Regions from separate parts of the Homo sapiens genome. Here region 2 is linked to region 1. A link means that fine-mapping ties the variant in region 1 to the expression of a gene that starts in the linked region. Tissue or cell type: whole blood. Region 1 holds a variant in brackets; the other region holds the start of a gene. All regions are shown on one strand. Distances are from middle to middle.

Evidence for each region. PIP is the estimated chance that this variant, and not a neighbour inherited with it, causes the effect.
Region 2: it holds the start of ZNF692, and the variant in region 1 is fine-mapped to the expression of ZNF692 in whole blood (TOPMed, PIP 0.98).

Annotation. Positions count from the first base shown.
Region 1 is chr1:248,688,822-248,696,927 of GRCh38, reverse strand. All of the region lies in intron 3 of OR14I1 (olfactory receptor family 14 subfamily I member 1), which reads left to right. Among named protein-coding and RNA genes, the nearest start is that of OR14I1, 9.9 kb to the left of the region's middle. The variant C/G (reference allele first, on the strand shown) is at 3,557.
Region 2 is chr1:248,854,585-248,862,680 of GRCh38, reverse strand. It overlaps ZNF692 (zinc finger protein 692), which reads left to right and starts at 3,596. Exons shown (of 12, transcript NM_017865.4): 1 at 3,596-3,763; 2 at 4,360-4,550; 3 at 4,822-4,853; 4 at 5,184-5,447; 5 at 6,119-6,167; 6 at 6,259-6,393; 7 at 6,735-6,956; 8 at 7,046-7,123; 9 at 7,223-7,301. The coding sequence starts at 4,372. It overlaps ZNF692-DT (ZNF692 divergent transcript), which reads right to left and starts at 3,517. Exons shown (of 3, transcript NR_186117.1): 1 at 3,435-3,517; 2 at 1-52. RefSeq lists enhancers at 3,112-3,261, 4,062-4,111, 4,712-4,791 and a silencer at 3,402-3,901.

The sequences.
Region 1 (8,106 bases):
ACCCTTCCCTAATCCTCACCCCTGCCTTCCTCATGTGACACTTTCAAACGCATCCAATAACACTAGAGTTACTATAAAAATCCCTGCCATTATGGAGCTCATTTTCAGATGGAGGAAGCAGAAAAAAACAAAGAAGAAAAAAATATGATATGTCAGATGATGATAAATACTACGGAGAGAGACAAAACAGGACAGGATGTGCAGGGTAGGGATAATTCACGGGGTTGGTCAGGAAAGGCCTCACAGAAAAAGGGACATTTTTTGAGTGGAGGCCTGAAAAAGGTCTACTTCCAAACACTTACACAGAAAAATGTGGTCTTACAAGTAAAGGTCACGGGTGGCAGAATGCACAGGATACTCAAAGAAGGGGCCCTAACAAGAAAGAGCCTTAGCTTCTTCTGCACTATCTGCCTCTGGGGCTCCATAATAATGTCCTAGTGAACAGAAGTCGACTGATTCCCCGCTTCCATTCAAGTGTTCTTGCTGCCACCTGCTGTCATGGGCAAAGACTGGGCTTGGCTGTTCCAGTAAAAGATGTCCAGGCACAGAGCAGAGAATGGTGGGGACTATGAATAAAGAGGTGGAAATCTGTGGAAAATTAAGAGCAAGGGGAAAAAAGGAGTAAAAGCCATGGTATTTCCCTGAAGAATTCTCCTTAGGCTATCAAAAGGTAGTTTTGATTTGTTCACCTCCCCCAGACCAGGGCCTCTTCTGCCTCTGTTAGCCCCTATGGGATGAGTAGTATGTGACACCAAGGGGACATGCCCACCCAGATCCTGTATGCCCTTTCCCCACTTTGCCTGGCTACCAAGAATCCTGGGATTTCTTGCTCAAACAGACTGAGATCTAACCTAGCAGTTGTCAGAGGTGGTGGGAGTGGGGAGTTTAAACTTCAGCATTGGCGTGTCCACACACATGATCGCGATGGCCTTCACAGTTGAAGGGGAGTGTGGAATGGGGAAAGGAGATGGGCTGGAGACCAGGATCCAGATTTCTCAGTGCTGCAATTCTCTGGCATGAAACTCTTGCGAACATTCCAAACCTTTTAGGTCATTCTGAGGACACATTTGTGTAAGTAAAAGGATGGAAAATATTTTATTATTGTTTTTAGCTTACTGTATTTCTTTTAAGTATTGTGACATATTACCATGGGCCCTGCAAATGTGAGGGCAGCTGGCCCTCCACCCGGGGTAGGAGAAGGGGTTGGGAAGGCAGTGCTGAGGCCTGGGAGCTGGGTGCTGCCATGAAGAGAAGGAGAAGCAGAGACTAGAGACGCCCACATGCCTCTCCACCACTACAACCATTAGAGATCCAGGGCTAACCAGGCTTGCTTTCTCTGGAGAGTCTTGTTTGAGGAAGCACAATCCAAATGTAATTTTAAAAACGCATAGATTCGGCCGGGCGCAGTGGCTCACACCTGTAATACCAGCACTTTGGGAGGCAGACGCAGGTGGATCACGAGGTCAGGTGATCGAGACCATCCTGGCTAACACGTTGAAACCCCGTCTCTACTAAAAACACAAAAAATTAGCTGGGCGTGGTGGCGGGCGCCTGTAGTCCCAGCTACTCGGGAGGCTGAGGCAGGAGAATGACGTGAACCTGGGAGGCAGAGCTTGCAGTGAGCCGAGATTGCACCACTGCACTCCAGCCCGGGCGACAGAGCGAGACTCCCTCTCAAAAAAAAAAAAAAAAAAAAAAAGCATACATTCAAAAGTAATTCGTAAAAACTTATCACTTTAAAAAGTAATTTTGAAAATTAAAAGACAAAATAACGAAAATTTCAATGGTTAACGTTAGAGAGACCTTCCAATTCATAATTTCTCAGCAATATGTCTCATATCCCCTTTTGTCTCTTTCCAAACTCTTTCATACCCTACTCTGCTCTGAAGCTACTCTGTCCAATGTATCTATTTAAAATTAATTAAAATAAAATGTAATTAAAAATTCAGTTCCTTAGTCACACCAGTCTCATTTCAAATGCTGGATAGCCACACATGGCTAGTGGCCACTGTACTGGACAGCACAGGCATAGACATTTTGATCACTGCAGAAGGTAATGATGAATGTAAATTAAAATTGCAATGAGGGGCAACAGGTATTCTCATCTATTTCTGGTGGGTAAATTAGTAATACTTCTTTTTGAGAACAATTTGCACAAGCTCTTTTATCCAGCAATTCCTAGGTATTTTCCTACATGCATTTGTACAAGGTCATTCATTGTAGCATCCTCTGTGATAAGAAGTGATCAGAAGTGACTGAAATTCTCATGGTTAGATAGATTCTGTCATATCCATGAAACAGAGATGAATACCACCATAGACAGAATATGGCCATATTCTGATGAAATGAAAAGCTCTTCAAGATGTACTTTTAAGGGGAAAAAAACAAGATGTAGAGCATTTGATATAAAATGCTGCCAATGGAAAGAAAAGATGCATTTGGATATGTTTGTAAGTAACAGACCATTTCTGGAAAGGTAAACAAGAAAGGAATAACTATGGTTGCTAAACAGGAGTTGTGTTGGGGGCTGAAGAGGGTAGGATAATATACGTCATAGGCATATATTATTTATTTTTACAGTTACACAATTAAAAACAAATGTAAGTAAATTTTTAAAATGGGACAATATATGAAAAAAAGTTTTAAAATTTGTTTTTGCTCCCGAAAAAAAAGGCTTGTTACAGAAAATATTATATTCAAACAAACTTCACTACTAATCATAACCACTAAGCAATCTCTGATCAGCAGAGCAAAGGAGGGCACTTTTGAGGAAACAAGTGGTCACCTGGTTAAGTATGAGATTAAGTATCACTTTCTCCCACTCCCCTCAAAGTTGCCCACATGCCTCCCTCTGCCCCTCCAGTGCCTGGCTGGGGCCCTGATGTCCCAAGGCAATGGCATGTGAACTTGAAGAAAATTATTAGAGTGTGTGCCACATGCAGACTGATAGGTCTTCCTGCCCTCTCAACCAAATGCACAAACACTCTTAAGCCCAATATTCCAGTAAATGGTTTTTTTTTTTTTTTTTAAAAAGTTCTGGACTTTGATTTCTGTTAAAATGCAGAGCATACCAGGCAAGTTAATAGCACTGTTCTTAGCTATTCATAGTGAGAGGAACGACGATTTTCCCATCCTTTTTTTTTTTTTAAATGAGCTTTGATTGAGAAAAATCAGTGGGGCTGGGTTTGGGCTCTAGAGGAGATAAGATAGGATAGAGTGGAGAAGACAGAGGATGGGGAAAGGAGAAGAGAACTTGAAGATTGGAAGCTCCAAGATAAACTTCCACATTTTACCTAAGGCCTGTCCTCAAAATAAATAAAACAAGACTTTCTGTAATGTTTTATTAGGTGTGGAAAGCAGAAGAGAAGAAAATATATCAAGAAAAAACTAATTTTATGTAAAATTATGCTGAACTCTTTTATCTTATCAAAAATCCTAAGTTGGCTCATAATGAATTCTTACTAAGTGGTAACTATTTTTACTGTGATGCTGGTCCACCAGTATGGGGCAGGGGGAAAGGACAGGTGGGTGGTGAGTCTATTTTCAGTCTGCCCTT[C/G]TCTTTCTCATCAAAGGAAAGATGAGAACTTTGAGAGGCTGAGGGAACCAGGAAAGGTGCAAGGAGGTGGCCAGGAATAGTCAATGCTCCTGGCCGTGAATCAGTACACCACCCAGGTGACGTGGGAGCAGGAACAGTCAGTGCTCCTGGCCGTGAATTAGTACACCACCCAGGTGACGTGGGAGGCTGGCTTGGGAGGTGATGCAGGATGCCCTGGCAGCAATGGGAGAAATGTTAAAATGATTATGTGGCACTAACTGAATGACTCCTCCCGATAAGCAGACCCAGAACATCTTACTTCTGTGAACAACCAGGGAGAGTTAGAGGCTGCTCACACAGTACCCTATAACCTTCAGGGAAATCGGGGAAGTAGAACTACTTGGATGAGGGCTCATGATTCACGTTTCACTGGTGAACATTTTCTCTCCCCACAATTCTCCCAACATGAAGTGGTCTCTGGAGAAAGACAGACAAACATTAAAGCTCTCTTTAATGAGAGCTTATTACATGCCAGGCATTGTGTCAGCCCTTTACTAGCTCACATGTTCCTTACAACTATAATAGGCAGGAACCAATATTCTTAGTACTCTAATAAGGATACCTAAGAACAGATAAGCTCAGCTGCTTTCCTGAGGCCAGGCAGTCAGTTAAGTGGTTGATCAGAAGGCAACACTCAGGACTGTGTCCCCAGCACTGTTCTGTAGACTGTAAGCATTATGAGGGCAGGAGCCGTGTCTGCTCTTTCCTTATGCCGTGCTGATGAGTACACTGCCCAACAAAGAAAGGTGATTGGAGGTCTGCAGAATGCAAAGGGGAATGTGGCTGGGAACGCGAGAATGAAGGCAGAAATGCCGGAATAAAGGCTGGACTGGGGTAGAGAAAGCAGGTGGGGATTCAGAAATGCGGGTGGGAATCAGAGCAGGGATGTGGGAATGCGGAAACGCAGGTGGGAACGATGGGGAGAAAGTGGCAACGTTGGGGGATGCAGTTGGGAATGCAGGAATGAGGGTGGAAATGTGGGAATGCAGGCTGGAAGAGTGGAGAGTACAGGAATGCAGGAGGGAATTCACGAATGCAGCAGGAACCTGGGAATGCGGGAATGCAGAGAGCGACGCTGCGGGAAATGCGGGAGGACCCCAAGCCATCCGCTCACCTGTGAAGAAGGGCATGAAAGTAAGGCTGCAGGCCAAGAGGAGCCTGCCCGCCACCGAGGGACGCGTGGCTGAGGCTGCGGCCGGCCCCGTCGCTCCGTCTGGAAGAGAGGAGCCAGTGAGCTCAGTTCCGCGAAAGGGACACGCCCAGGCGGCCGGGCCCGCGCTCCCGCGCCACGCGAATGGCCTTTCCGCTGCTGGGCGAGCGCCCCTCACAGCGCCCCCGGATGCTGGGTGGGCCGCGCTGTGAGCTCGGCCTCTGGAGGCACCTGGGACTCGGAAACACTGCCTAGCCTAGAGACTTGTAGGCCCGAGAGAGCCTCTGGCCTGTCCGCTCCTTTCCACAGCGCGCTGTGGGCCCGCGGGAGCAGCTGGACCGGCAGCTGCGTCCTGAGGTGGGCGGGGTGGCTTGGTGAACCCGTACCTGACGCCGGGCGGTCCGGGACAGGCGGGTTGGCCGGGCTAGGCCGGAGGGCACTGCGCATGCGTCGGCCTCCACAGTCCCTTTGGCCTGCCCCATTGGTCCTCACTTCCCGCTCTTCCCGCCCTCTGGGAGCCTTGGCCAATGAGATCCTGGTGGCTCCCGGCTCACGTGACTGGAGAAAGCCTGGTGGGCTAGTTCCACAGTTCTGACGATTGGAAGAACTTGGAGGAGCTGGAATGTCTGTTTTTCCGATTCTTTGGTTCTCACCCCACCCAATTAAAGATATGCTATTGTGCCTCACCCTCTTCCCTACCTAGTCTAAGCATTTTTGAGGAAAGGGTACCTATATACTTAATTCTCTGACGGGAACATTCTACCCTACCAATACCCTCCAAGTCATCAATGCATCTAGTGCAATTCTGGCACCTCAGAATATTTTCTAACATACTCACACCTCCTTGAGACTGAACACTTTGAAAGGACAGGGACTGTGTATGTATGCATGATCCACATACTTCCAGCCTTTAGCACTGTACCTGGGACATAAATGCATTGTTAGTGTGTGTTGAATGAATGAAGGGTCCCTTCTACCTATGAGCTCAAGAGTGTTAGAATTCTTCCTGTTACCCAACTGCTGTTTTGATGGCTTACTTTCTGGCAGCTGCAGAAGCTCTAATTCTTTTTGGAAGCAACCTAAATATCCATCAAGGGATAAATGGATAAAGAAAATGTGATATCTACCTAAGATGAAATATTACTCAGCCTTAAAAAAGGCCTTTTCTGCATCTATTGAGATAATCATGTGGTTTTTGTCATTGGTTCTGTTTATGTGATGGATTGTGTTTATTGATTTGCATGTGTTGTACCAGCCTTGCATCCCAGGGATGAAGCCTACTTGATCGTGATGGATAATCTTTTTGATGTGCTGCTGGATTCAGTTTGCCAGTATTTTATTGAGGATTTTCACATCAGTGTTCATCAGCGATATTGGTGTGAAATTTTCTTTCTTTTTTTTTTTTTGGTTGTGTCTCTGCCAGGTTATGGTATCAGGGTGATGCTGGCCTCATAAAATGAGTTAGGGAACAGTTCCTCTTTTTCTGTTGTTTGGAATAGTTTCAAAAGGAACTGTACCAGCTAGTCTTTGTACCTCTGTGAATCCGTCTGTTCCTGGGCTTTTTTTTTTTTTTTTTTTTTTTGGTTGGTAGACCATTAATTACTGCCTGGATTTCAGAACTTGTTACTGGTCTATTGAGGGATTCGACTTCTTCCTGGTATAGTCTTGGGAGGGTGTATGTGTCCAGGAATTTATCCGTTTCTTCTAGATTTTCTAGTTTATTTTCATAGAGATGTTTATAGTATTCTCTGATGGTAGTTTATATTTGTGTTGGATCAGTGGTGATATCCCCTTTACCATTTTTTATTATGTCTATTTGATTCTTCTCTCTTTGCTTCTTTATTAGCCTAGCTTGGTGGTCTATCTATTTTGTTAGTCTTTTCAAAAAACCAGCTCCTGATTTCATTGTTTTTTTGAAGGCTTCTTTGTTTCTCTATTTCCTTCAGTTCTACTCTGATTTTAGTTATTTCTTGTCTTCTGCTAGCTTTCGAATTTATTTGCTCTTGCTTCTCTAGTTCTTTTAATTTTGATGTTAGGGTGTCGATTTTAGATCTTTCCTGCTTTCTGATGTGGCCATGTAATGCTATAAATTTCCCTCTAAACACTGCTTTAGCTGTGTCCCGGAAATTCTGGTGTGTTGTGTCTTTGTTCTCATTGGTTTCAAATATCTTATTTATTTCTGCCTTAATTTTGTTAGTTACCTAGTAGTCATTCAGGAGCAGGTTGTTCAGTTTCCATGTAGTTGTGTGGTGCTGAGTGAGTTTCTTAATCCTGAGTTCTAATTTGGTGCACTGTGGTCTGAAAGACTGTTTGTTATGATTTCCATTGTTTTGCCTTTGCTGAGGAATGTTTTAGTTCCAATTATGTGGTCAACTTTAGAATAAGTGCTATGTGGTGCTGAGAAGAATGTATATTCTGTTGATTTGAGGTAGAGAGTTCTGTAGACGTCTATTAGGTTTGCTTGGTCCAGAGCTGAGTTCAAGTCCTGAATAGGCCTGTTAATTTTCTGTCTCATTGGTAAAGTTTTTCTTTTAACTATTTGGTGTTAGAAGTAAGATTTGAAGGATACCCAGTGGCCCCCCGGAACAAGGAATGCCCAAGTGTAGATACCCACTAGGGCCCATTGCTCTCACGCTGCAACTGAAGATTATGGGTAAATTTCCTCTTGGATTCAAACTCTGCAAATTTATGTTTTGAGCTCTAACTTTGTTTGAGCAATTTGTTGACTGGACTGGGTTCAGAATTGGAATGGATCTGGTAAAGAAACCAGACTGGGTCCAGTAGGAGGCCTCTGGTAGGTAAGGTTCCTGGAAGACAGCATATCATGTGTTTTTTGAATCCAAGGGCTCTAGAACTCTTCCATGTGGGACTGCAGCATATTTTATGTATAAGAACCATGGACCCAGAACATGTGTTTTTCTAGAAAAATGAGTGAACCTGACCAAAGGTAATTTTAAGTTACAAAGGCCACAGTGGGGAGACTTTTTACAAAGGACAAAGAGGTGCATGCCTTTATAATACGCCAGCTATGGGGACTGAGAAGACCTCCTTGTAGCTATTTTGAACCCCAGAGGAGTTGCCTCAAAAGTAAAGGACCGCGTGTCCCAAGAAGTTTACCTGTATTTTAAATAGTCAGGCCTTTGCATAAGAAATTTTTCATTTCTATACCAGTCATCTGATGGACCTGGCCTGTCTACCTACTAGAGAAAGCCCCCAAGGGCTACACTCCCTGGGCAATAATCAACCAATCCCCCAGAGAAAAAAAATGGAAGTTTCAAATCAAATGTGGAAGTCCCCATACCTGAAGCTATCTGACTGACAGTTGAATCATATTTAGAAAAACATTTGTAAGAATGAGTCT
Region 2 (8,096 bases), 170 kb before region 1:
GGCAGTGGGTTGACTCAACTTCTGTAGCAATTTGGCTCATTCCTCCTTGGATCTGGAGAGTGGAAAGTAGTTTTTCTCTTTGGAGAGAAGATACTAAAAGTTCAGAGGGTACAGCAATATTAGATTTGGCTGTGCCAAAGCAGGAGATAAGAAGAGCGCTATGGTGCCATGCATAGTCCAGGAAAAATAAATGTTATGAAGATAAATATGTCCTCCACATGGACCCTTTTATGTGTATAAAAGAATTGGCAGTTTCAGCAGTCTGTAAACTGTAAAGCTCAACAGTGACAAAAATACAAATAGCTCACATTTAATCTTAGCCTTTGTAATGGGATGCTAAGATGGAATTCAAGGTCTCAGACTGCAATGAGGTCACTAAAGGCAGAGAACCAATGTTTACAGAGAACCCCTCCTTAAAATGTTAGCACTCCCTTGCAGCACTTACAAAGGAAGGGGCTGGTGACTGTTTTTGAGAGAGTTGGCTCATTCCTTACCTAGATGATATAAGAAATTAAAGAGAGGCTGAGAGATTTATTTGGAGACGGTTATTGAAGAGCTGGGCATTGGCAGTAATTTCATTTTATTATTTTAAACAAGATCAAACCAAGAGAACCAAAAATGTTCTTGGGTCTCAAAGTGAGACCCAACATTCTAAGAGTAACCAAGAATTACAAGACCTTTCATTCCCTTGGATGAAACCACAAGGATTTTGCAGATATCTATTAAGGGACCATGAGGAAAGGATAAAGTTTGTTCTCGATGGAGTCCTGCTCTTTTGATGTGAAAGTTACACTTTCATTAATGAGTAAAGTAGCTGGAAAAGTTACACATTCATTAATGAGTAAAGTAGCTGGGACATCTTCCTTCCTACCTTACACTAGTCAGACAAGTATGTTGAGTCACTGATACCACAAATCAAAAGGAATATGCACAGGACACACTGGGCTCATCCTAAGGGTGTTCATGTTTGCACACCATGTCATTTGAGATATTTAGGCTGCAGAGGAGAAGGCTGGGCTAGTCAACAATCATCGTATACCAATAACAAACACACAAACAAGTCCCTGAGATGATTTCAGAAAGTAAGTGCCATGAAGAAGATACAATAGGGCACAGTGAGGTAGAGCATGACTGAGGAAAGGGAGCTTTCTGAATGAGGGATTTTATAGCTGAGTGGGTGATCTTATAGCCGAGATTTACAAGATGAGAAGGGAGCAAACAGATGAACAGCTGGGTGGTGGGCTGGGGGATGGGGTGGGGGCTGAGGGGAGAATTGAGTGCTCCAGAGACAAAAGAACTCCCTCTAGGATACTTGGCACACTTGAGAAATAGCAAAAAGGTGGGAGGACAAAGTGGGAAAAGTTGGGGGATGATGCCAGAGAAGAAGCCAAGGGCCCAATTAAGTAGGTCCTTGAGGCCATGATAAGGATTTTGGATTGCACCACTCACAGATTTTAAGCAAAAGATTTGATCTTTGAGGAAATTTTCCCTGCTTTGTGAGAGTACAAGTTAAAGTAGGAGGCAGATCCATTAGGAAGATGTAGCCACAGACCAGGTGAGAGATGATAGTGGTATGGTAGGCTTAAAAATAGTCCCAGAAAAGATATCTGTGTCCTAATCCCCAAAACTTGTGGAGATTACTTTATTTTATTTTAGATGGAGTCTTGCTCTGTCACTCGGGCTGGTGTGCAGTGGTGCAATTTCGGTTCACTGCAACCTCCTCCTCCTGGGTTCAAGCAATTCTTCTGCCTCAGCCTCCCGAGTAGCTGGGATTATAGGCCCATGCCACCATGCCCAGCTAATTTTTTTTGTATTTTTAGTAGAGACAGGGTTTCACCATGTTGGGCAGGCACATCTCAAACTCCTGACCTCAAGTGATCCACCCGCCTTGGCCTCCCAAAGTGCTGGGATTACAGGCGTGAGCCACCGTGTGCAGCCGATTACTTTATATGGCAAATACTTTACAGAAGAAATTGTCTTAGGATACTGAGATGGAGAGATTATTTGGATTATAAGGATGGACTCTAAATGCATTCACAAGCATCCTTGTAAGAGAGAAGCAGAGGGAGATTTGACACAGAAGGAGGCAATGTGACCTCAGAGACAGAGATTGGAGTGACGTGGCCACAAGTCAGAGAATGCTGGCCACCATTAGAAGCTAGAAGAAGCAAGGAAAGGATTCTCCCCTAGAGCCCTTACAATGGCCTGTGGCCCTGCTGATGCCTTGGCCTCCAGAACTGTGAGAAAATAAATTTGAGTAAAGGGAGCAAGTTTGTGGCTGAAAACAACACACAACACAATTTGTTACAACAATTACAGAAAATTAATACCAGTGGCTTGGAGTAGGGTTTTAGCAGTTGAGAGGGTCAGAAGTGATTGGATTTAAGATAAATTTTTGGAGACAGGACCAACAAGATTTGCTGATGTATATGGTTTAGGTATCATAAAAGGCAAAGAATCAAGGCTGATTCCCTTTTTTCTGAACAAGTGGGTGGATGATGACATAGTTTACTGGCATGGGGGAGGGTACAGGCGTTATTGTTATATGTTTGCCATATTTATGTTGGAGAAAATATCAGCTATCATGTGTCAGCGCTCTCTACATGCCAGGCACTGTCCTACATTCTTTACACGTGTTAGCTCAGTTAACACATGTAAGTCAAGCGGGCAGTAAGATATATGACTGGAGTTGAAAGAGGGCTAGGCTAGGAGCCATCAGTGTATTTAAAGCCATGGAACTAATTAGATCACCCAGGAGAACATATGCAGACGAGAGAAGATCTGGTTCAAGGCCTGAGCCAGGGCACACTTCATCTTTTGGCAGAACAGAGGGAATGGATCCAAAAAAAGGATAGAAGGAGCCAGTGAGGAGGGTGGAAAACCTGGAGCATATGAAGTCACAGAAGTAAAACTGGGGCCCAAAATGTAGAGGGAGCCATAAAGATGAGGAGGACGAGAGCTACATAGTCGCGCTCTTTCTAGGGCAGAGAGGCGGACGGAACTGACAGCTGCTATGTAGCAATATGACCGTCTCAAGTGACCTTGTGAAGCGCCACTGCAGTGGCTGGGTGGGGAGGAAAGCTCCATCAGAGCCATTTGAAGAGAAGAGGATGGGAAGTGAGCGTACACAGAGAATGCAGGCAACTTTTAGGAGGAATTCTGATGGTAATAGAAGTGGGCTGTAGCTGGTGGGACTCTGCGGTCCACAGAGGGCTCTAGCTGGACCCTCTGTGGGTCTTTCAAAGTGACTGATTCTGCATCATGTTTGCGGGTGGCAACTGTGAGGGGGAAATCGAAGGTGAATACAAAACGGGAACAAGTGAAGAGGCAACGTCCCCATACAGGCCGGGTGGGCTGGGGTTGGAGCACAGGAGGCCTGACCCTGTCTCTTCCACTTTCCCTCAAACCTTTGGTCACCAAGCGCAGACGCTCACCACAGAAGCCACCCAACCACAACTGCCGCGGGGCTCCGCGACACGCGCGGGCGACTTGAGTCGGGCAACCACGATTCCCGGCGGGCGTTGCGCGGGGCACCCAGTGCGCAGGCGCACGGCGTCGGCCTCCGACTCGCCCCTCCCTCTGGGGCGCGGGCCTCAGTTCCGGGCTACAGCAGCCGACGCCGAGAGGCACCGTTTCTTCTTAAAAGAGAAACGCTGCGCGCGCGAGGTGGGCCCCTGTCTTCCAGCAGCTCCGGGCCTGCTCGCTAGGCCCGGGAGGCGCAGGCGCAGGCGCAGTGGGGGTGAGGGCGCGTGGGGGCGCACAGGTAAGGCCGGGGTGGGGGTGGGTCGCGACGGGGGCTCTGGGCAGCCTGGGAACTGCCATTGGGATTAGTCCGCTCCACTCACTGTCAGCATTAAGTGGGGGTGCCCAAGACGGGGTGGATGGGGGGCGCCCTCCAGACCTCTGACCACGGCCTCACCGCCACTCGACCCAACTATGAAGAGCGCCCCCAGCTGCACGCCAGGACACGACCTTTCCTTCCCCTAGAAACCAGTAAAGGCCGCTGCCCTATTCAAGATGAAATGTGTGGACCGCCCCCAGCCCAGTTGAAATTTCCCGTGAAAGTCTCTCGCCCCTTCCCCACAGCTCCACTTCAGTGGACTGGAGGGCGCAGGCCTTTGTTCTGACTGCTTCTGTCTGCCTGCCTCCCACCCGACGACACTCACATGGTAGCGCTGAGCTTCAACACCCTGTATCATAGAAGGACGGGGTTTGGCTCCACACCTGCCACTGCTATTGAAATAGTTTAGTCTTGCCCCAGTTCACTGATGAGGAAACTGAGGCCCTAACGGCAGGTGGAGCCGGGTCCCCGACCCCCGAGATCGGCAGGGCGCTGAAGACGTCCCTTCCACCCTCCAGCCTCTGGTGCACATGGCTTCCTCCCCGGCGGTGGACGTGTCCTGCAGGCGGCGGGAGAAGCGGCGGCAGCTGGACGCGCGCCGCAGCAAGTGCCGCATCCGCCTGGGCGGCCACATGGAGCAGTGGTGCCTCCTCAAGGAGCGGCTGGGCTTCTCCCTGCACTCGCAGCTCGCCAAGTTCCTGTTGGACCGGTTAGGGGCCGGGAGAAGGGCTTGGGGGAGGGTACCCAGGCAGCAGCCCCTAGCCTCCTCTCCAGGGCCTGTCCTGCTGCTCTTTTCCACCCTCAGGTTTCTCACTTTACCAGGACGGCCTGTGTGACTTGTGGCCTCCGAGGGTCCTGCTCCCCTCCTCATGGTCTCAGCGAATAGCGGCCCTTAGGGCTGGCCCCTTACATGTGTGAGTGCCCAGGGCTGAGGGTGGCTGGCCACCTGAGTCCTGACCTGCCTCTTCTCCTGCTGGCAGGTACACTTCTTCAGGCTGTGTCCTCTGTGCAGGTAGGTAGGGGATGGCAGGGGGTGAGAGCCAGAGGGAAGAGGGACCACAGGGTGACCCAGAAACACCCTCCTTTCAAAGGGAGCCCTGAGTAAGTTTGGGAAGGGTGGGGTGAGTTGGGGAGCACAGGGTAGTTTGATGGAGGCAACCTCTGGGTGGGGAAGGGAGCAATGTCTCAGGATCTAGTGTGTCTAGGTTCTGAAGAATGATAAATTGGACTGGGGCTGAGGTTGCCCTGGGGTTTGAGGGAACAGGGCTCCCTGGGTATGGCTCTCCAGGGTAAGAGGAGGAGACTTCCCAGTTCAGCCTGACTGCTTCCCCCACCCCTCCAGGTCCTGAGCCTTTGCCTCCAAAAGGTCTGCAGTATCTGGTGCTCTTGTCTCATGCCCACAGCCGAGAGTGCAGCCTGGTGCCCGGGCTTCGGGGGCCTGGCGGCCAAGATGGGGGGCTTGTGTGGGAGTGCTCAGCAGGCCATACCTTCTCCTGGGGACCCTCTTTGAGCCCTACACCTTCAGAGGCACCCAAGCCAGCCTCCCTTCCACATACTACTCGGAGAAGTTGGTGTTCCGAGGCCACGAGTGGGCAGGAGCTTGCAGGTAGGCTGGAAAAAAGCAGAGTTATGGAGAAAAGGGAGGAAAAACGTTTCCCATTTTCTGTAGCTCAGAACCCTGTTCTCTAAAAATGATCCTTTTTCAATGGAAAAACTCTATCTTGACAAATATATCATCAAATACACTGTTGGGCATGAAAAGCAAAACAAAATACAGTGTATGGTATGCTATCATTGGTGAAAAATACAAATAAGGGGAAAGTGAATGTGTGTGTGTGTATGTGTAAGTACTTGCGAATGTATGACATATCTCTGGAAGGCACATAGAAAACCAGGTTGCCTATGGGAAGAAGTAGGCGATGGGGGACAGTATTGGAAAGGAGATTTTTGACTGTATAGTTTTGTGAACTATGTGAATATCATCTCTGAAACAGAACAACTCCTCCTACTCAGATAGCCTCTGCTCCCTCCTCCTCCTTCTTAAAAGTCTCTGCCTGGGTGCAGTGGTTCACACCTATAATCCTAGCACTCTGGGAGGCTGAGGCAAGAGGATTGCTTGAGCCCAGGGGTTTGAGACCAGCCTGGGCAACATAGTGAGACCCCGTCTCTATTTAAAAAAAAAAGAGGAGTCTCCCATCACTTCAGACCTTAGAACTTTATGTGTCCTCATCCCTTGAGTCCAGAGTTCCTTCTCTTTTGACTTTGCCTGTCCCACAGATTTGGAATCTGAGCATGATGAGAGGACTCAAGAGGCCAGGTTGCCCAGGTGAGGATGTGGATAGGAGAGAAAAGGCGGAATTGCATAGGTGGGAGGATGAGGGAGCAGGACCTCAGGCTTGCCTTCTTTGGGCCTGCAGGAGGGTGGGACCCCCACCAGAGACCTTCCCACCTCCAGGAGAGGAAGAGGGTGAGGAAGAAGAGGACAATGATGAGGATGAAGAGGAGATGCTCAGTGATGCCAGCTTATGGACCTACAGCTCCTCCCCAGATGAGCAAGTTGGGGTTGAGGGAGAATGAGCAGAGCAAGAGAGGGAGGCAGCTGGCCTGGCAGTTCATGGCTTTGCAGACTAGAGGGAAGGGCTTGTTAGTGTGGAGGGAAGGGTGGGTTTTGGGGAAGGCAAAAAGAACTAGAGGCTTTGAACTGAGGGGGTGAAAAGGGGTGAAGTCAGGTGCAGGGAGATTGAGGGCTGAAAGCAGATATGAATGGGGAGCCTAGGGTGGGGGTAGGGTTGTTTCAAGTTTGAGATCTTTTCAGTTTAGGGGCTAGGGTCGGGCAGGGGATGGCTGACTGCCCAGAAAGTTAATGCCATCTTCCTCTTTGTTCTCCTTTCAGTAGTGAGCCTGATGCCCCCAGACTACTGCCTTCCCCTGTCACCTGCACACCTAAAGAGGGGGAGACACCACCAGCCCCTGCAGCACTCTCCAGTCCTCTTGCTGTGCCGGCCTTGTCAGCATCCTCATTGAGTTCCAGAGCTCCTCCACCTGCAGAAGTCAGGGTGCAGCCACAGCTCAGCAGGACCCCTCAAGCGGCCCAGCAGACTGAGGCCCTGGCCAGGTAACCTGATGGCTGAGACAGAAAGGGCAGGGGCGTCCTGGGATGTGGCCCTCCCTCGAGGCCCTCTGCTCCCTCTTTGCTGCCCGTAGCACTGGGAGTCAGGCCCAGTCTGCTCCAACCCCGGCCTGGGATGAGGACACTGCACAAATTGGCCCCAAGAGAATTAGGTAGGACTTAGGGAGATGGGGTTCTGGGGAGGGCCGAGAGGAGGGAGGCAGAGAAGGGCAGGCAGGAGTCATGCTGCTCCTTTCCATTCTTCTCCTCAGGAAAGCTGCCAAAAGAGAGCTGATGCCTTGTGACTTCCCTGGCTGTGGAAGGATCTTCTCCAACCGGCAGTATTTGAATGTGAGGGGCACAGGTTGGGGCCTGTGTGGCTGCTGGGGTGGGGGAAAGGGCTAAAAGAAAAACTGAGGAAAAGGATCTTAAGGCATGGGAGGATTCAGAACCAGGAAGCAGAGGGTACCTGACATGTATAAAGTCTTTTGGTCCTCACAATATCCCCATAGATTAGGTGCTGCTATTATTCCCACTTTGCAGACAGAAAGGTTAGGCATTGCTCAAGGCTCTTCAGCTAGTGTGTGTTAGTGCTAGGGTTCTGAGCCTGGTGGCCTGGCTTCAGAGTCCATGCCTGGGCTGCCACATATCCTGGCTTGAGAGGGTAGTTCTAGAGTGAAACGGGCTGGGAGATGGTCCTGTCCCCAATCTCATTGCCTGAGAAATTTGAGGCACAGAAGGCAAGGGGTCCAATCCCTACAGTCAACCAGAGCACTTGGCACAGCAGGTACCAAGGCTGGGGAGGGCCACAGACACTGGGATGGTGAGGTGAGGGTAGACAGACAGGGGAGAATGCCGCCCACAGAAGATGACAGAGAGGAATCAAGTGAAAAGGGAAAATGACCCGGGATGACAGGGAAGCTCTAGGCTGAGAAGAGCATTCGGCAGGGCATGTCAGACATTCTGGAGTCTGCTGTGGAGAAGATCAAAGCAGCCCCTGGAAGTTTAACTGTGGAAAAATGGGATTCTAAAGAAGGGGACAGCCCATGCAATTTAGTGAGCCAGGATGCCAACTTAGGTCAGTGAAAAGAGAAATACTTTGATATTTAGGAGTTAAGGTTGAAGAGCCTGTTACCCTTAATAGTG